3 linked regions of the Homo sapiens genome follow. The protein of the gene in region 1 purifies or fractionates together with the protein of each later gene. This does not show direct contact. Each region holds a gene or a part of one and is shown in the gene's direction. Other genes may lie near its edges.

Region 1 (6,016 bases):
GACCCTCAGTTCTAGGACTGGTCCGCAGAGAAAGCACCCAGGAGCAGAGCGCTTCGGAGCGGTCCTCAGTGGCGCCACCTGCTGGTGCTAATAGGGACAGCCACAGGCCTCTTGCAGACTGGCCCACCCTGCCTACTTCCCTACTGACAAGTTCTTTGGTATTTCAAAAGGGAGAAACCACTATAAAAGACAAGAGGAAGGGCAGGTACTAGGTGTTTCATTTCCAGAATTAAAAAAAAAATCCATTTAAGACGTACCACTGTTTTACCGGACTGAATGGGACTGTAGTGCCAAGCACAGCCAGGAAATAGAGAAACTGTTATTATGGAAGGGAATTTGTTCACATGGGAAAGCCTCATTAAATAGATTCTATGTGTGATGTTTGAGTGACCAATGAAAATAGCTGGCCTCAGTTCTGCATGGCACACTCCCAAGAGCAACAGTTACTATTATCACAAGCCTGGTATAAATAAGATAGAAGCAGCCCTGGACCCACAGCCAGCAACCTGGGTTATTGGCCCAGCTCTGTCTTTGTGTGCACATGTCATTTGGACATCTTGTCACCTTTCTAGGTCCTCTGTAAAGTGGGAAAACAGAGTGGAGTTGGATTGAATGGTCTCCAAGATCATTTCCAGCTCTGACCTTTGGTGTTCTCAGGATTTGTAAAGCAGAGATAGGTAAAACACAAAAGCAGACCCACGGACCGACCTTTGTATAACTTTGGAGTGTGGTTGCTCATGCACATGTGAAGTGCAGGCAGATCAAGGTTCTGTGGCTTTGTCTGCCCTGTCCATTAGAGCACAATCTGGATAGAATGCCAGCCACCAAGATGCATGAGGGGCAGGGTCACCATCTCAGAAGGGGAAGCACAGGAATGTGATTGGGATGGTTAAACCTCTCTTCTCCTCCCTTTGTGCTGGAACAGCAGTTGAAGTTTGGTCCTGGAGTAATTGCTGTGATGACTTGGGAAGCCACTGATCTCCTCTTGCGTCTGCCCTTGGCCTGCATCATGACTAAATAAGTTCAGGACTTCTCTGCTTTGGTTGGCAGAAGGTAGATTCCAAGGAGATCTTGCTGGTTGCTGAGAGGCAGCTGTTCTAGAAAGTGAATTACCCTTGTGGTTTTTTCTTTGGGGCCCAGCTAGCTCCTGGTGAGGTTGTGTTTTTGTGTTGTGTGGCAGAAACCAATGGTTAGCTGGTCCCCTGGTCTGCAGTTTGTAAAAGACCTTTCATGAGGCCTGGAGTCTTGCTACCTGTGGTGATTGAACTCAACTATTCTGGGTCACCTGGATGCCAGGCGCTGGCCTAGCTTCTGGATGGGAGTGGGAAGGAGCAGAGGGCAGGTTCACCTGTGCAGGTCAGACACTCTGCTTCCATCACTGGATGGCATTCCTACGTCTGCGTGTGGTTCACGTTTTCTATATATATTCCCTGTATATATTTTTTTCTAGCACTTGTCTACTTTCTGAAGGGACCATATTCCTGATCAACTAGTGTGCACAGAGGTGGAACAGGGCAGAGAGACCTTTATCTCTAGGATGGGTTGCTGGTTAGGTGTAGGCATTCTTGAGTGCAGCAGCTTGGCTTTGAAACGCAAGGGTTGGAGAATGTTCCCCTGACTGTACTAGACTGGGCTCTAGGGAAAGAATCCTGAGACAGCCCCCCACTCCCCCACTGACCCCACACTAGCTGGGCTATTATAGAATTTAATCTAAATCTAGAAATACTGCATTTCACAAAATGATTCACTGTGTTTCCCTTTTTTTACTGAGGTCCAATTCATTTAGTCGTCTACCAGACACTGCACATCCAGTGTATGCGAAGCACCAGGCTAGGCTCTGTAGGCAATACCACTAAAGTGTGCACTCTGATTTAGGGAGCAGGACCTGTGGATACCGATTCTAATAACTAGCAAAGTCAAGTCGTGGTTATAGAAAGAAGTGTGGCTTCAGAGGGAGGTGGGTATTTCCAAATATGGAGTTAGGGATGGCTCCATGAGGTAAGTGACAGTTTGAGCTAAGTCTTGAAGGATGCTTGGCAGCTAGAACCATATTTTCCATATTCAGGAATTCAAATTTGCCTTTATTCAGCTAGAGAGAAAGAGAGAAGGGGGTGTGGGGGAGAAGGAAAAGAGAATTTTCACACATTTTGAAGTTCCTGAGAGCATTTCTGAGGATATCTGCCGTTAGTGCAGAAGGTCGAAACCCCAAGTGCCCCCACTAAACCCAGGCTCTTTAGCTGTAAACTGCCATGCAGTGGCAGGCCTGCAGCCTTCCTGATGGGACCACATGGACAGTGGCACATGGGACATTTGGCTACTCGTTAGCTTAAACAACTCAGTCCTGTGTCTTCTGGTTTTGACAAGACCACATTTAGGACTGCTGCCCACCTCTGCCTCTTTCATTGAGATTTCCGCCTTATTGGGTCCCTGTGCTATGCCACAGATACCAGGTTTGGGGTTGTTTTGACCCAGAAGGCATTGGGAGTCCCACATTACAGAGCACACACACAGCTCAACACAGCCATTTCCCTGGCCAGAGGCACCAAGACTGAAGTTCAGGCCCTTAGACACTAGGTGGCAGCGGTGTGGCTGTGCAGAGCCAAGGATGAACCTGAGAGCTTGTTTGCCTCTGGCTGGGCACTCTTGTTTTGAATTCCTTTGCCCTTATCGTGTAGTCCACGGCCTTGGTGACCAAGGACCACCTGGCTAGCCTGCTTACATGCATGACCCCATCCAGGTTCACAGGTATTGCCACTGAGTGATCTTAGGTAGATCACTGCTCCTGGAGAAGCAGAGTTGAGGAGTGTAAGACAAGGGCCATCTAGTGCCAATGTTCCTTGATTCTTATTTGAGGAGCTACTATGTGGTCTTTCTGTAAACAAGTGAACAACCAATGAGACTAAATATTTGCAATAGATAGGCTAAGGAATTTGGGTTGAGACAGGAGACGGAGGAAAAATGCTTTGATACAATGACAGATGGTTAGTCTCTTCAGATTTCCCTGAATATTTTCCATCCCGACAATATGCCTCTTAGATACTTGCAGATTAGACATGTCTCTGGATGGACCACAAGATACATTCACAACATGTGTTCAGCCTTGAGCCCTGGCTGTGTCCTGTCTGGAAGGAACTGAGGATGATGTGGCTATAAAGAGGAGGCAGTGAGCTGGCATGTGACTGCCTTCTGTGGGCCTGACCTGTTTGACATTTGAGGGCCTATGATGTGCTAGGTGCTGTGTTAGGTACTTCCAAATGCTTTATCTCATTTTACCCCAGTGCAAGTGTGATATAGTGAGGATGGTGAAGACGTGGGTATGGTTAAGTCATGAGTTCAGATCCCGTGCTTCCAATTACATGGGTGTTTTCAAACAAGTCACTACTTATGAGTTTCCTCATCTGTGAAGGGAAGTTTAGTCATCTGTTTCAATGTGGAGACACACAGGATTGAGGGAGTCCTCCGTCACAGGGTGACTGTCTGGATTCTATGAGGAAATACTTGGAAAGCATGCAGCACAATGCCTGGGGTGCAGCTGAAGCTGAGCCACTGGTGTTTCTTCACAGTATCTCTGTGGGGAGGGTGTATTATTCCTTTTTATAGGGATCTCTATAATGAAGTGAGAATCTTGAAAATATAAGTGTTATCCTAGATGGGAGGTGTTAAAGGTTTTTGCCTTGGGAATTTTGTCATATTTGTTGCACAGCAAGGAAGGACTTTCAGAAAAGCAGGGATGTGGTGAGGAAGAGCAGGCAATAGAGAGCAGGGAGGAAAGGCTAAGTAGCATCTGGAACTTGAGAAGTCTAAGGGAGCCAAAATGAGATTTTCTATTAAAAATGTCTATCCTCAGCCGGGCGTGGTAGCTCACGCCTGTAATCCCAGCACTTTGGGGGGTCGAGATGGGCAGATCACCTGAGGTCAGGAGTTCGAGACCAGCCTGACCAATATGGAGAAACCCCGTCTCTACTAAAAATACAAAATTAGTTGCGCGTGGTGGTGGGCGCCTGTAATCCCAGCTACTCAGGAGCCTGAGGCAGGAGAATCACTTAAACCCAGGAGGCGGAGGTTGCAGTGAGCCGAGATCGCGCCATTGCACTCCAGCCTGGGCAACAAGAGCGAAACCCCGCCTAAAAAAAGAAAAAAAAGAAAAAGTCTATCCTCTATGCTACTGGCCTGTTTGTACAAAGATAAAATCATTCTAATTTGTCCGGAATGACTATCAAAGATGATCAAATCCCCAGGGCCTGGTGTAACGTTCCAAATCATAGCACAAATACAGCTTGACCTTCCTTACAGTCCAGAAAGGACATTCTCCCTGAGAAATGCCCTTGGTTGCTGAGGACAGCTCTGTCCTGTAGTGACAGAGTGACTGCCTGGCTGTGGCTCTTGGGTTCACAGAATCCCTAATCCTCCAAGCCCCTAAGAGGCAGGGCAGGGATGCTACCCACAATATATGCAGAACCCCAGATGGAGCCTGTGGGAGAGAGAGGAAATTACCGTCTTCACTGTAGGCAAAGGAGAATGGCTGTGATTAGCCATATATGCCTATAAGAAGGAGCAGAGCCATACTGTCCTTGTGGGTTGGGAGAGGGGACACAGAATCCAGGGCAATTGTCTGAGGTCTCAAAGTAAGTTAAGCCAGAGTCAAAGCCAAACTCCAAGTCTTGGCCAAGGGGATGAGAAAAGCAAGGAGCTAGTCTTATAGGTCAAGGAAGATGAGGTATAGTTAAGAGTCATCAGTATCACAGAACAGGCCAGCAGGGCTTTATTAGGTATGTAGAACTATTATAAACCAAGGATCTTGGGAGATATTAATATCTGCTGGCCAGACCTAAAAAAAACTGAAGGCCCAAGGAAAGTGACTGGACTCACTGGAAAGTATCTAACAAATACTTTGGATTCCAAAGTATTTCCAATACCTTGAAGATTCCTTTGAAAACATCAAAGCACAAACTCAAATCTGCACAAGATTACAAAAGCACAATTTTGGTGTTATTTTTAGAATGCAATACACAAAGCTATGTTCATTTCTCTCAGCAAGCATTTTCCTGGGTAGTAGTAATAGCTTAGGAATCAAATGCCACTTTTGTTTTTCCTTTTTTCACTAGTTTGAAATACCACAAATCACAGGTGAGTCAGTCCTCCCAGAGGAAAAGACAGTCCTAGGGAGAATCACAGGCCTGGCAGACAAGACCACACTGAGAGCAGTAGAAGGAACCTGCATGCTTAAGGGACAGAGGACTGTGTTGTGTTCTCATAATAGACCGCTGGATGAAGAAGTGGTTAAAAACCAACCCTCGAAAAACAAAAATCCCTGGCTAATCCTGAAATATATTTAACTTGAAGTCTTTGGATGATTTTTTTAAGGTTAAAAAAAAGTTTAGGATTATTATAAATCAATATTTATAAATAAGCAACAATGTATTTGGAATTTTTGTTTACCTGATTAAATATGTTTTTGGTATGTGTATACTGTGGAAATGGTGAATTTGTACTTGGACTTGTGGTCTGTGGACTTTGTTGGGTGCCTCTGCCTTTCTCCCATTTTCTGCAGCCATATCCCTATTGTCAACCTCCCTTCCCATGGGCTAAAGCGAGGGAGACTGAGCAGAAAGGGGTGGATTACTGCAGAATTGGTGGGGGAGTGCCCATACCAGAGTCACCTGCAAATACTCATCCATGCATTTTCATAAATTCCTCCAAGGCAATTAAATTCAGATAACTGTTTAAATGACCTACTTCTCACCATGCCCAAGAAACACTCTTAACCCAGAGTTTTTATGGGAGCTATGCCCTGTCTATCCATCTACAGATGTATTTTCTACCCCATAATCAAAAGTCAAAGAGGGCAAGAGGCAGATTATCGTTACCATTGAGACTCAGAACCACCTCGGGGCACGAAACCCACCTTTTCCTGACCCCCTTACCTGCTACCACTGAAATCATCTTCCAAGTGGATGGTGGCCCTACGGTCCAGTTTGCTGAGCTTTCTGGGGTCCTCTGACACACACCCAATCTT
Region 2 (7,000 bases), on another chromosome or scaffold:
CAAAGCCATTGGGAGAGCTGAGAGGGCCAAGAAAAAAGACTAAGGCCCAGGCTCTGGCCAAGTTGGAAGAATGGAGAGGGAGCAGCGGCCCCAGGGGGCAGGCGCCCAGGTCAGACAGCCAAGTGGGGCTCAGGTCGTGGCTGGCACTGGCTGAAGATACCCCTGGGAGCTGGCCCACAGGGGAAGGGGCAGAGCTAGTAAAAGGGAGCCCCCGATCCCCAGGACACAAGCAGATCCTGGCAAAGAGAGAAAAGCACCCCCCAAGAAGACCCTAGATGGGAAGAACTAGTGCCGTGTAACATCCTATGGATGCCTAAGACGGCCAAACACCTTCTGTGCCTTGGCAGTTGTATGGGTGCCCAAGAGGTCTTATCAAGGCAGCTCTCCCCTTAGCGCAACCGCGTCTACAGAAACTCGGAGGGCCCTATCTGTCCCTCCTCCACACCCAGTGGCCTCTGGGTTGGGTTTCTCTTCCTGCTCCCACCCCACGGCTCCCTAGCTCCCCCTGCAGGCAGGGTTCTGGGGACAGACAGCCGAACAGACACGGCAGGTCTCATGAGCCTTCCCAGCCACCGTAGTGCCGGTGCCCTGAGAACAGGACTGAGTGATGGCTTCCAACTCCAGCGATGGTGAGGCTGAGTCCTGTTACTATAGCAACTTCCTAGGCACACTCTGCCCCTTAAGTCAGGGAGGGGCTGCAGCGGGGTCTGGGGCACAGGCGAAGAGAAGAAGGATGTGAACCCCTGGCTGGCCCTGGAAACGCCTCCTGTACAGCCCCGGGCTGTGCGGCCTGGGGAAGAGAGAGGGGATCGGTGGCCCAGTTCAGACAAGGGAGGATGGTCCACCCGGCAGGGGGCCAGCTCAGAGAGGGGTGGTGGAGTGGTCCATCCCAGTGTTGGGGTTCAGCTCAGACTGTAGGATGAGCCATCCCAGTGTTGGGGTCCAGCTCAGAATGGGGGTCGTTCCAGCCAGTGTTGGGGTCCAGCTCAGAGTTGTGTCATTTAGGTAAGCCCAGAGCAGGGAATCCAGGCTCCACTGGAGGAATCAGCCAGCCTCGAGTAGGGGGCCCAGCCCAGGCTGGGCATTCCTGCCCCAGAATTCCCAGGACAGCCAGATTTCAAAAGGGCAGAAGGTCTGAGATTGTTGTCCGGAGGAAGGGGGTTCTGTGGCTGGGCTCCTTCCGAGAGAGACCCCAAGCCCCTTGCCCAAATTGATATTCTGCTGTTGCAATTCCCCATTCCCAGGGCGAGTTTCTAGATTTCTGCTTTCTGCTGTGGTCCTGGCTTTTCAAGGGGTGTCAAGGAGTTTTCCCTATGAACCCAAATGGAATCTGGACCAGAGTGAGAGCTGGCACCCCCCGTGTGGGAGATGTGGGCAGGGCGGCAGGCTGTACAGGCCAGCAGCTGGCTGGGTTACCATCCTCTGCCACTTCCTGTTGCTAGCAGGGGTCCTGGATGCCGGGCACACTCAAAGAGGCTGCCACTGACCCTCTGCTTCTTTTGGGATCTGGAAAGAAGGAGGAAGATGGTCAAGGCTGCCTCCCCCTCCCCCACCCCTGGGTTTAGCCGCTCGTTTCCGGTTTGGACTTTCATGGCCGAGAGTAGAGCCAAGCACAGGGCAAGGTTTGAGAGAGGCCAAGGACATCCCGGGATGCCTTTCCCCTCTCCACCCCCGCATAGGAGCAAAACAAAAGAGTCAGATATACCCATTTTCTCTCTCAGGATAGCAGGATTTGGGGGTTCCACATTGAAAGGGAGTTCAGGGGAGGAGGCAGGGTGGCTCTTGTCGCCCCCCGCCCCAAGCCTTTCTCTCCAGCTGTTCTTTCAGCGAATTAAGGGAGCTCTGGGGCCTCTTTAGCCCCTAAGGAGTCTCTGGCTGTTGCCTGATCCTGAACCTTAACTCTTTCCCCTCTGCCCAGTGGGCACTGCTCTGGGCACATCAGGCGCTGTCCTCTGCACAGTCCAGTGCCCACTGAGGAAGGCAGGGCCTGGCGTCCTGGGAGCAGTGAAGTCCGTGGAAAGGGAAGTTAGTTTTATCGCCCCGCCCTGGGGCACGCAGGCCAGCCAGAGGGACACCCTCGGGAGAATCTTCCCATTGCCTCCTGCCAAGGGAGCCCTCTGCAAACCTTGGCTAGCTTGGAGCAGGTACCTTTAAAAGCTTCTGTGGCAACCAGCTCCTCCTCCCTGGTCCCCTGAGGCCATCCCAAGGAAGCTGACTTAGAGGCTCTGCGTTTTCCTGGTTTCTCAGCAAAAGGAAGATTCCAGGGAGAGCCCAAGGGGGCTGGGGATGGATCTGGGATCAGGCAGCAGCCAGGGTGGGGACTTGGAGACCACCTTCCAGCTGTGGCTGCAGCTGCTCCTCTGGGCCCACCTGGCTGTACGTTTCCTGGGCTACCTGCACCGCACCTTCCGGGGGCCTAAGCCACAGCCAGCACCCTGAGCCTCCCTGGCCAGGGGGCAGAAGGCCGCCAGATCACCCCATCCCACCCACCCTTTATTCTACCCTTTCCTGGAAGAGACAGGAAGCAGAGGTGAGTGTGGGGCCTCTTGATTGAGGTTACCTGCCCCTCCCCCCCATCATCCCTCTCTCTGCCTGCTCCTCCTGGCACTGGCCTCCCCCATGCCCCATCCCCAAATCTGACAAGCTAACAGGGCTAGTGGCACCAGAGGGGACAGAGCCTGGGCGCTCTGGTCCTTTGAGAGGCCAGAGAAGGGCCATGCTAACAGCAAGGCACCCTGTGGAGCGACTCTGTGGGGCACCAGCGGACAGCCAGGGGCTGGGAGCTCAGCGAGTCGGGGAGGTGCAGGATTCAGCAATTCTTTCCTTTTTGCTAAGAGCAAAGGGAAAACGGACCAGACCTTTTGGATTCCCTTCAAGCCTGGCACCTCTCTGCCTTCTTGTGTGGGTGAAGGTAGAATCCCAAGAGGGCACCCTCCACCCTCCCCACCCACTGCTGAATTCTGTGTGGATTATTTGGAGGTTTCCAAGGAAGATGTTTTCTGTCACAAAGGTTCTATGACTGAAGCCAGGCACAGTGGCTCATGCCCGTAATCCCAGCACTTTGGGAGACTAAGGTGGGGGAATCCATTGAGGCCAGAAGTTGGAGACCAGCCTGGGCAACATAGCAAGACCCCATCTCAAAACAAAATAAAACACTCAAACAAAGGTTCTGCTAGTGAAAGTGTTGGATTTGGTGTGACCCCCAGGCTCAGGCCCCTGGGCTAGTTGGTGGCCCAGCCAGGCACCCATCTAGGACTCCTGGCCATTCATTGCCTATCCCCTCTCCGCCTGGTCATTTATTGTGGGGCCTTCTTGGCCACGGTCTCTCTCCATCTGCCATCTACCACTTTCTTTTTTTTTTTTTTGAGACAGAGTTTCACTCTTGTTGTCCAGGCTGGAGTGCAATGGCGCGATCTGAGCCCACTGCAACCTCTGCCTCCCGGGTTCAAGCAATTCTCCTGCCTCAGCCTCCTGAGTAGCTGGGATTACAGGCATGTGCCACCACGCCCAGCTAATTTTGTATTTTTAGTAGAGACAGGGTTTCTCCATGTTGGTCAGGCTGGTCTCAAACTCCCAACCTCAGGTGATCTGCCTGTCTCAGCCTCCCAAAGTGCTGGGATTACAGGCGTGAGCCACTGCACCCAGCCACCATCTACCACTTTCTAGCTCCATGAGGGCTCTTCTCTCTGAATGCTGAGGGAAAGCTCTGGAGACAGGTAGTGGGGGTGGCTCCCCACAAGGCCATGTGGGATTACTGGCAGGCAGATAACCAGCAATGCCAAAGGGCAAGTGTACAGGGCCCCTCGGTGGCAGCAAACCCAGGAACATCAGGGGGTTGAAGGCAGCTCTGTCCACATTGGCCACCCTGGTGCACTGGACTCAGCACTGAAACCAATGGCTGAGTTGGCAGTGAAGTAGTTAATCTCATGGGATGTGGGGGCAGGCAAGTGACCTCAGACCTGATCAGTCTTCTCCTCTGTACAGTGGGAATAACAGCAGCTCCCACCCCACAGGGTGAGAACGAAGCATAGAAAATACTCAGCAAGGGGCTGGTCCCTTGTAGCCCTAGGTGGTGGTTAAAAGGACAAGTCCATAATGCAAGAATCTGTCAGGCTGCGCATTTAAGATTTGAGCACTCAGTGTATCTCCTATATTTGTTTTTGGGGTTTTTTTATTATTACTTTTTTTTTTGAGACAGGGCCTCACTCTGTCACCCAGCCTGCAGTGTAATGGCTCAGTCACGGCTCACTGCAGGCTCTATGTCCCGGGCTTGAACAATCCTCCCACCTCTGCCTCCTGAGTAGCTGGGACTACAGGTGCATACCACCACACCTGGCTAATGTTTTTATTTTTTGTAGAGGGTTTTGATGTTGTCCAGGCTGGTCTCGAATTCCTGTATTCAAGCAATCCCCCCAACTCGGCCTCCCAGAGTATTATTATTTTTTTGAGAAAGAGTCTCACTCTTGCTCAGGCTGGAGTGTAGTGGTGTGATCATAGCTCACTGCAACCTCAATCTCCTGGGCTTTAAGCAATCTTCCTGCCTCAGCCTCCTGCTTAGCTGAAACTGCGGGCATGGGCCACTATGCTCAGCTAATTTTTTAATTGTTTTATTTTTTGTAGAGATTGGGTCTTGCTATGTTGCCAAGGCTGGTCTCTAATTCCAGGCCTCAAGCGATCCTCCAACCTCGGCCTTCTAAAGCACTGGGATTACAGGCATGAGCCACCGTTCCCGGCTCTCCCTATGTGTGTGTGTGTGTGTGTGTATATATATATATATATATATATATATATATATATTTTTTTTTTTTTTTTTTTTTTTTTTTTTGAGACAGAGTCTCACTCTGTCGCCTAGGCTGGAGTGCAGTGGCATGATCTCAGCTCACTGTAACCTCTGCCTCCCAAGTTCAAGAGATTTTCCTGCCCCAGCCTCCCAAATAGCTGGGATTACAGGCATGCGCCACCGTGCCCAGCTAATTTTTGTATTTTTAGTAGAGACGGGGTTTCACCATGTTGGCCAGGCTGGTTTCAAACTCCTGACCTCAAGTGATCTGCCTGCCTCGGCCTCCCAAAGTGCTGGGATTATAGACGTGAGCCACCATGCCCGATCGCTCCCCATATTTTCTTTTCTTTTTTCTTTTTTTTTTCTTAGACGAGTCTTGCTCTGTCACCCAGGCTGGAGTGCAGTGGTGCAATCTCGGCTCACTGCAACCTCAGTCTCCCGGATTCAAGCAATTCTCCTGCCTCAGCCTCCCAGGTAGCTAGGATTACAGGCACACATCACCACCACGCCTGGCTAATTTTTTTGTTTTGTTTTGGAGACAGAGTCTCGCCCCGTCGCCTAGGCTGGAGTGCAATGGCATGATCTCAGCTCACTGCAACTTCTGCCTCCCGGGTCGAAGCGATTCTCCTGCCACCATGCCCGGCTGATTTTTTTGTACTTTTAGTAGAAACGGGGTTTTACCATGTTGACCACGCTGGTCTTGAACTCCTGACCTCAAGTGATCTACCCGCCTTGGCCTCCCAAAGTGCTGGGATTATAGGTGTGACCCACCGTGCCTGGCCTCATTTTTTTATTTTTAGTAGAGATGGGGTTTCGCCATGTTGGCCAGGCTGGTCTCGAACTCCTGACCTTGTGATCCACCCACCTTGGCCTCCCAGAGTGCTGGGATTACAGACGTCAGCCACCTCACCCAGCCTCTCTCCCCATATTTTATACCTCAATTTAGAAAATAATAGGCTGGGCACGGTGGCTCATGCCTGTAATCCCAGCACTTTGGGAGGCCAAGGTGGGCAGATCACCTGAGGTCAGGAGTTCGAGACCAGCCTAGCCAACATGGCAAAACCCTGTCTCTACTAAACATACCAAAATTAGCTGGGCGTGGTGGCAGGTGTCTGTAATCCCAGCTACTCAGGAGGCTGAGGCAGGAGAATCATCTGAACCTGGGAGGCGGAGGTTGCAGTGAGCTGAGATTGTGCCACTGCACTCCAGCCTGGGCAACAAAGTGGGACTCCATCTCAAAAAAAAAAATAATAATAATTAAAAAAAATAAATTGGCCGGGCATGGTGGCTCACGCCTGTAATCCCAGCACTTTGGGAGGCCGAGGCGGGTGGATCACGAGGTCAGGAGATCGAGACCATCCTGGCTAACACGGTGAAACCCCGTCTCCACTAAAAAAAATACAAAAAATTCTCTGGGCGTGGTGGCAGGCGTCTGTAGTCCCAGCTACTCAGGAGGCTGAGGCAGGAGAATGGCGTGAGCACGGGAGGCGGAGCTTGCAGTGAGCGGAGATTGCGCCACTGCATTCCAGCCTGGGCGACAGAGGGAGACTCCGTCTCAATCAATCAATCAATCAATCAGTCAATAGATAGATAAATAAAAAATAATAATAGCTGACATTTATCTGGCACTATCATCACACGGGGCCACTGTTCAACTCCCTTTGTCAAGATGAACTCATTCATTCCTCAAAACCACCCCACTTTACAGATGAGGAAAACTGAGGCCTAGAGAGGTGAGATCAGTTACCCAAAGTCACAGAGTTCATCAGAGACCAGGCTGGGCTCTGAACTGGATCTTGACCCCAAGTCCTGGCCCTTAGCCACTTTGCTGGGCTGTGTCTCAGCAGAGACGAGAATGACTGTTTTCAAGCCTGTTTCCTGGGTTGTTAAGTGGAGACAATGGATACAAGGCAGGTTGCCGAGTGAGTCAGATGAGACAGTGTAGACAGCAGCCGGCACAGGGTCTGCCGGGGAAGTTTCAACATTAGCCAGGCGGTGATGTTCACCTTGGGATACCATGGGGCCGAGGAGTGGGCATCGGGCGAGACTTCCCTTGAACCAGCTCTGGAGCAATGCCCTTGCGATTGCCACGGAGAGGAACAGGGCCAGCTGGGGGCCAAGGTGACAGCTGAGCCCCCCAAGGGCACCTGCTACCCGAGCCCCCGAGGCCTCCATCCCAGGCCCGGCCTCCCCAGAGAAGGGGCCAGAGGAACAGCCAAA
Region 3 (7,000 bases), about 84 Mb from region 1:
TCCATTTGGCACATTTGCTTTCCAATTATTCTCAAGATCAGACATAATTAGAAAGACATCAATATATTTAAATATGGGCAATAATGATTCACAATGAGCTAACTATTTTAGGTTTATATTTTTCCTCAACATATGCTTCCCCATAAATTTATCAGAGCGTTATTTGAACAAAATATAGAGATTTAATAAATATTTGAAAAGTAACAAGGTTCTTTACATACTTTTTAAAAAAATACTTTTTGTTCCCAAAGTACCTCTACTTCATATTAGTTTTTATGCATAATCTACTAATTAGAATGTATTAACTCATTTTTACAGAAAATCAATGGTTTTATTTCTTTGCAGTGAGCCCCATGCACGGTTCTATGCAGCTCAGATAGTGCTAACATTCGAGTACCTCCATTCACTAGACCTCATCTACAGAGATCTAAAACCTGAAAATCTCTTAATTGACCATCAAGGCTATATCCAGGTATGACTTTAACACATTATGTGTACTGTATATGAGAAAATACTAGGCAAGACATTGTATGTATGTAACCCCAACTTGGAATTTTTTTTGAAGAAGACACTTTCTCCTAATAGTTTAAGTAGAGCTCAGAGTTTTGCTGCTATTACAGAGAAGCAAAAATCCTGTTATGAAAGGAACTTGTTTATATCTCCATTAATCTATAGTTGTGAACTGAGTATAGCCTCTTGCATAAGGAGATATTAATAGCTAAATCTATGAGCAGTTATTAGTGCCAGGCATATTCCACTTGTTTTACATGTATTATTTCTTTAATCCTGATAAACCTATGAAGTGGAAATACCATTGTTATCTTCATTTTAAGATTAACAAAACTAAGACATAGCAAGGTCATTTAGCCAATAAATGGTAGAGTCAGAATTTGAACCTAGGCAGTCTGATCCCAGAGTCCATGCCCTTTACGACTACAATATAACTGCCAAAGAATCCCTGACTACCAATACTGAACTCGTAGCAACGTTTTCTTTCCACTTCTACTACTAATAAAGTGGGAGCATTTCTTTTTACACAATTATTGATAGATTCTCCCATTGACGTTTTTACACTTCTGATGGTGCAACTAATGGCAGAGGACACATTGGGGTAAGGCAGACATTTAGCATTGTTTCATTTTTATTAATGCTATTTATTTTTACCTTTTATTTTCACTTTTTTATTCCTTGGGTCTAGGATCTTATAATAATGACTGAAAAGAGTTTTGTTGTTATTAATTTGTTCCTTTTCTTTGAGTTGAGGAAGGATTTCCAACTTGGATTGTTTAAACTTTCATTCACTAGATATTCATGAATGAATTTCAATTACGTGGACTTAATTTTTTTTCCATTTCTTTCATAGTTTCAATTTGAATTTTAAACTTTCAACGTAGGTGCAATAAATACATTTATTGTGAGGTAATACATTTTCACTAGTATTCTTTTTTTCTTTTATAGGTCACAGACTTTGGGTTTGCCAAAAGAGTTAAAGGCAGAACTTGGACATTATGTGGAACTCCAGAGTATTTGGCTCCAGAAATAATTCTCAGCAAGGTATATTCATAATATCAACACATAAGAAGTAGAAATATGAGACATGCATCCCTATGGACTTTTGTAAAAACAGTTTATTGATCTAATTTTACATTTTTAATTTGATCTAAGTTATGAATTTAAATCTATTTGTGCATGATTACTAAAGAATTATTATTTAGCATCTACCACTAATCCTGTAACCTCTGTCAATTTTAACTCTGGGTCTTAGAGATATAATATGAATAAATATGACCTCTAGATCCATGTTTTGCAACCAAAAACATAGTCTTTTCTTAATTATTCCTAGTAACGGAAGGGTAGAGAAGACTTGCTCTGGATTATACCAAGAGGTAAATCTAGAGATGATATGTACTAGTTGTCCATTCTTTCTTTGTTTCAAATTTACCAGTTAAATAAAAGGAATGTATGAGAAGTGTTTTTAAATTTTAAATAGGACTATTAACAGCAATTGAATAGTTTTAGTCTTATTGAAGGCAGCTCTGCTTTTCTAAATAGTGAAACGTGGTGAGAGAAACTGTACCTATATCCAAAAGAATGGTTAACTTTTCCTCTGCCATCACTTGGTGGAGAAATCTAGAAAGGAGAACCTAACAATAACCAGGCACAAATAGGAGAGAGGAAAAGGAAGGGGATAAGACACATGCTTCACTGGTTCCCAAATGGAATCATTGAAATATGGCTAACTTATAGAAGTGTTAAAATAAAAGATTTCTTTCAACTTTTCTCTCATTATCTTTCATAATTTAAATAATATGTAACTTCTTGATATTTTATAATCTAAATATCATTGTAGTTAACACATTTCTTTAAATACAGTTAACAAATAATGGGACAACAAAATGAGCACTAAAACTTTTACAAATGTGTATATATTGTAAAAGTAATACTCATTATACAAAATTTAGAAAATACAGAAAAACATAAACAAACAACCAAAAAAAAACCTATATGTAATCCCACCAACCTAGACGCAGCCTTTTTAAAAACATTCATATATGTATGTACATATATGTATATATGTGTATATGTGTATATATATACACCACATATATGTGTATATATGTGTATATATATACACATATGTGTGGTGTGTGTGTATATATGTATATGTGTATATATACATATATATTCATATATATGTGTATACGCATATATGTATATATGTATATGTGTATATATACATATATGCGTATATATACACATATATACGCATATGTATGCATATATATATGCGTATATATGCATATATGTATATATATGCGTATATATGCATATATGTATATATATGCATATATATATATATATACACACACATTTTAGCTTTATTTTAGCTTTCATTTTAGGTTCAGGGATACATGTGAAGGTTGGTTACAGACGTAAACTCATGTCATGGGGGTTTGTTATACAGATTATTTCATCACTCAGGAATTAAGCCCAGTACCCATAGTTATCTTTTCTTATCCTCTCCCTCCTCCCTACCTCCACCCTCAAGTAGAATCCAGTATCTGTTTTTTCCTTCTTTGTCTTCATAAATTCTCATCATTTAGCTCCCACTTACAAGTGAAAACATGTGGTATTTGGTTTTCTGTTCTGCATTAGTTTGCTGAGGATGATAGCCTCCAGCTCCATCCATGTTCATGCAAAAGACATGATCTCATTCCTTTTTATAGCTGCATAGTATTCCGTAGTGTATATGTACCACATTTTCTTTGTCTAGTCTACAATTGGTGGACATGTAGGTTGATTCCATGTCTTTGCTTTTGTGAATAGTGCCACAATGAATAAACAAATGCATGTGTCTTTATGATGAAATGATTTATAATCCTCTGGGTGTATACCCAGTAGTGGGATTGCTGGGTCGAATGGTAGTTCTGCTTTTAGCTCTTTGAGGAATCTCCATACTGCTTTCCACAATGGTTGAACTAATTTACACTCCTACCAACAGTGTCTAAGTGTTCACTTTTCTCTGCAACCTTGCCAGCATCTGTTATTTTTTGACTATTTGTTTATTTATTTATTTATTTATTTATTTTCTGGAGATGGAGTCTTGCTCTGTCGCCCAGGCTGCAGTGCAGTGGCGTGATCTCGGTTCACTACAACCTCTGCCTCCTGAGTTCAAGCGATTCTCGTGCTTCAGGCTCCCAAGTAGCTGGGACTACCGGCATGCACTACAACACCTGGTTAATTTTTGTATTTTTTAGTAGAGACAGGGTTTCACCATATTGGTCAGGCTGGTCTTGAACTCCCGACCTCAAGTGGTGCACCCTCCTTGGCCTCTCAAAGTGCTGGGATTACAGGGGTGAGCCACTATGCCCTTCCATTTTTTTACTTTTTAGTAATAGCCATTCTGACTGGTGTGGAATGGTATCTCATTGTGGTTTTGACTTGCTTGCATTTCTCTAATGATCGGTGATATTGAGCATTTTTTCATATCTTTGTTGGCCGCATGTATGTCTTGTTTTAGAAAGTGTCAGTTCATGTCCTTTGCCCACCTTTTCATGGGGTTGTTTGTTTCTTGTAAATTTGTTTAAGTTCCTCATAGATGCTGGATATTAGACCTTTGGCAGATGCATATGGTTTGCAAATATTTTCTCCCATTCTGTAGGTTGTCTGTTTACCGTTGATAGTTTCTTTTGCTGTGCAGAATCTCTTCAGTTTAATTAGATCCCACTTGACAGTGTTTGCTTTTGTTGGAATTGCTTTTGGTGTCTTTGTCATGAAACCTTTGTCCATTCTTATGTCCAGGGTGGCATTGCCTAGGTTGTCTTTCAAGGTTTTTATACTCCGGGGTTTTGCATTTAGGTCTTTAATCCATTTTGAGTTGATTTTTGTATATGGTATAAGGAAGGGATCTATCTTCAGTCTTTTGCATGTGGCTAGCCAGTTATCCCAGCACCATTTATTGAGTAGGGAAACTTTTCCCCATTGCTTGGTTTTGTCAGCTTTGTCAAAGATCGGGTGGTCGTAGGTGTATGGACTTATTTCTGGGTTGTCATAGTTGAAATCATAGTAAATATATATAGTCTTGTCTCTGACTTTTTTCACTTTTATAATAACAAGCATGCAAACATCATTCTAATGGCTTGTTTGTAAATGTACCATAAAATATGTAGCCACTCTTCTATCGTTGAGTGTTCAGGTTTTATTTTTGATTTTTTTATTATTATAAATAACTATGATAAACATCCTTATACATAAAAGTTTTTTCCTTATTTTACATTATTTCCTTAGCATATATTCCCAGAAGTAGAATTACTGGGTCAAGGAATAGGAACATTTTTAAGGCTTTTGATACATATTGCCAAATTGCTTTCCAAAGTTATTATGCCATTTTACACTTCTACCATTAGTGTATTATAGTGCCTATTTCATAACACTATCACTGGGTATACTCATTTTTAAAATATTTACTGATTTCATAGGCAATAAATTGTATCTCATTGTTTTAATTCTCATGTTTTTTATTTATTTTTCAAATGGTTAATAGCCATTTGGTATTTCTTTATGTGTCTGTAAATTATTAGTTCATTTCCTTGGCCCATTTATCTATTGTAATTTAACATTTTTCTTATTGATGTGTTTTGATTTCTATACCTTGGGTATTAACTTGTGTCTGACATATTTACTATAAACATTAGCACACAATTTAAACATATGAATCAAAAAGTTAAAGAGAGTTAATGCCTATTTCTATTAAAAAACAAAGTGCTATTCCTGTTATACCACTCCTTCCCTTAAAAAGATATACACAGTATCAGGAAAAAAAAGAGAAAAAGAAAATCTCTATAGCGCTAAAGTATTATATTTTTGCTAGAATTTTGAAAACTAAGTAGTTTGTAAAGCTAAAATTTTGACAAAAGGGTGGAATGTGGTGAGTCGTGATGGTAGAGGGTACCTCTGAGGGCAGAGCAATAGATCTGGGTAGAATTCAGCTTATTTCTCTTCATGACAGGTTTTTGGGGTTGTTAAAAAATCTCTTGTGTCAGTTGATACTGACCATAGTTAATAAACTATATTAGCATGTTAATATGAAGATGTTATTCTTATTTATTTTCTTATGAATACTTACAAATTTTAATTTTAGTAAGCTTAATATGAAAAAAACAAACATAACCTGTGATTTTTACATTTGGTTTGCAAAGCACTTTTTACACACGTTACTCCCTTTCATTTGATACAGTCCTCACAAAACTCTGTGAATTCATTTTTTTCCTGCATATCTTTTAGATATAGGAAGCAAGACAGTAGATAGCAGAAGTAAAGTATACCTAAATATTTACATGAATTGAATTTTACATTAAACTTTTTGCTTTCACAAAATCCTATGAAGCAGATGGGATTATCCCTAGCACATTCACCCTCCTAACTCCAAAAATATAGAGTATTTTGAAGTCAACTTCATTATTTACTATGTAGTCCAGTTTCTATTATTTTCTTTGAAAACTTTTGATCTTTCTAGGCATGCTGTGGAAAATCTGTTTCATAAGATTATGGACCTAGAGTGGGCCTTAAGAAGTAATGTGGTCTAACTGCCTTCCTGTTATTGAGCAAGAACTAAATTATACCAGTGAAATAAAGAAAATTTCATTGTCTATAATATTCTTAATAATTTTAGGAAGAAGATTTAATACTCTTTCCTAATATCCAATTTCAGTATCTGGAAATCCTCTCCTTTGTTTAATTTAAATCTGACCTGATACATTTGGTTCATTTTTAAATTCTGTCCTGAATAGCTGCTCAGCAATTGCTTTAAAAAAATTTTTATATGCTTCCAGATCATTTTGAAATTATCTTTGACTTCATTCTCTTTTGAGTAACTTAAGTAACAATTGACATTGGTGTTGGTTTATCTCAGGGCTACAATAAGGCAGTGGATTGGTGGGCATTAGGAGTGCTAATCTATGAAATGGCAGCTGGCTATCCCCCATTCTTTGCAGACCAACCAATTCAGATTTATGAAAAGATTGTTTCTGGAAAGGTAAGTAAAACATTTTATTATTCCTCTCTTATTACTGTATATGAATTTTAAGCTTCATGAATTGAAACTATATTGTGTCATAATTATTATTCTACATTGGGAAAAATATAGAAAAATCTACAGTTGCTGCTCTTACTATCATAAGAATTGAATCATTTCAGTCTCTTAAGAAAAAAAGGGCAGTTTTATAAAGAAATTAACAAAACAGTAAAGCAATTTCTGTATTTAGTATTTTTATCACAAAGAACAGGATCATAGCCATAATTCTCGATATTCCTTCAAATAAATAAAAATAGTTTATTATTTCATGTGTCTATCTTCATGGAGAAAAGTTTTAGGGGCTGTTTTATATGCCCTTCCATTTTCAGGAGAGACTTCTTGTTTTAATTATGTCCAATACTATAACATTGGAAGTAAAAGTAAATATAAAATGAATAAGCCTTTTTCAGATGGAAATTTATAGAA

The links. The genes of interacting proteins can lie anywhere in the genome.
Region 2: the proteins of GPR161 (region 1) and PRKACA purify together in Homo sapiens (affinity purification with mass spectrometry; 4 studies listed by BioGRID and IntAct, with this or other methods). This does not show direct contact.
Region 3: the proteins of GPR161 (region 1) and PRKACB purify together in Homo sapiens (affinity purification with mass spectrometry; 3 studies listed by BioGRID and IntAct, with this or other methods). This does not show direct contact.

Annotation. Positions count from the first base shown.
Region 1 is NC_000001.11:168,078,993-168,085,008, reverse strand, and holds the end of GPR161 (G-protein coupled receptor 161), read left to right. Parts: 3' UTR 1-5,467; downstream 5,468-6,016. UniProt on the Homo sapiens protein: Key negative regulator of Shh signaling, which promotes the processing of GLI3 into GLI3R during neural tube development.
Region 2 is NC_000019.10:14,107,763-14,114,762, reverse strand, and holds part of PRKACA (cAMP-dependent protein kinase catalytic subunit alpha), read left to right. Parts: intron 1-571; exon of another isoform or gene 572-607; coding exon of another isoform or gene 608-629; intron 630-2,286; coding exon of another isoform or gene 2,287-2,439; intron 2,440-6,372; exon of another isoform or gene 6,373-6,778; coding exon of another isoform or gene 6,779-7,000. Other genes in the region: SMIM46 (small integral membrane protein 46), read left to right, coding at 2,287-2,439.
Region 3 is NC_000001.11:84,196,271-84,203,270, forward strand, and holds part of PRKACB (cAMP-dependent protein kinase catalytic subunit beta), read left to right. Parts: intron 1-345; coding exon 346-472; intron 473-1,458; coding exon 1,459-1,554; intron 1,555-6,412; coding exon 6,413-6,535; intron 6,536-7,000. UniProt on the Homo sapiens protein: Mediates cAMP-dependent signaling triggered by receptor binding to GPCRs.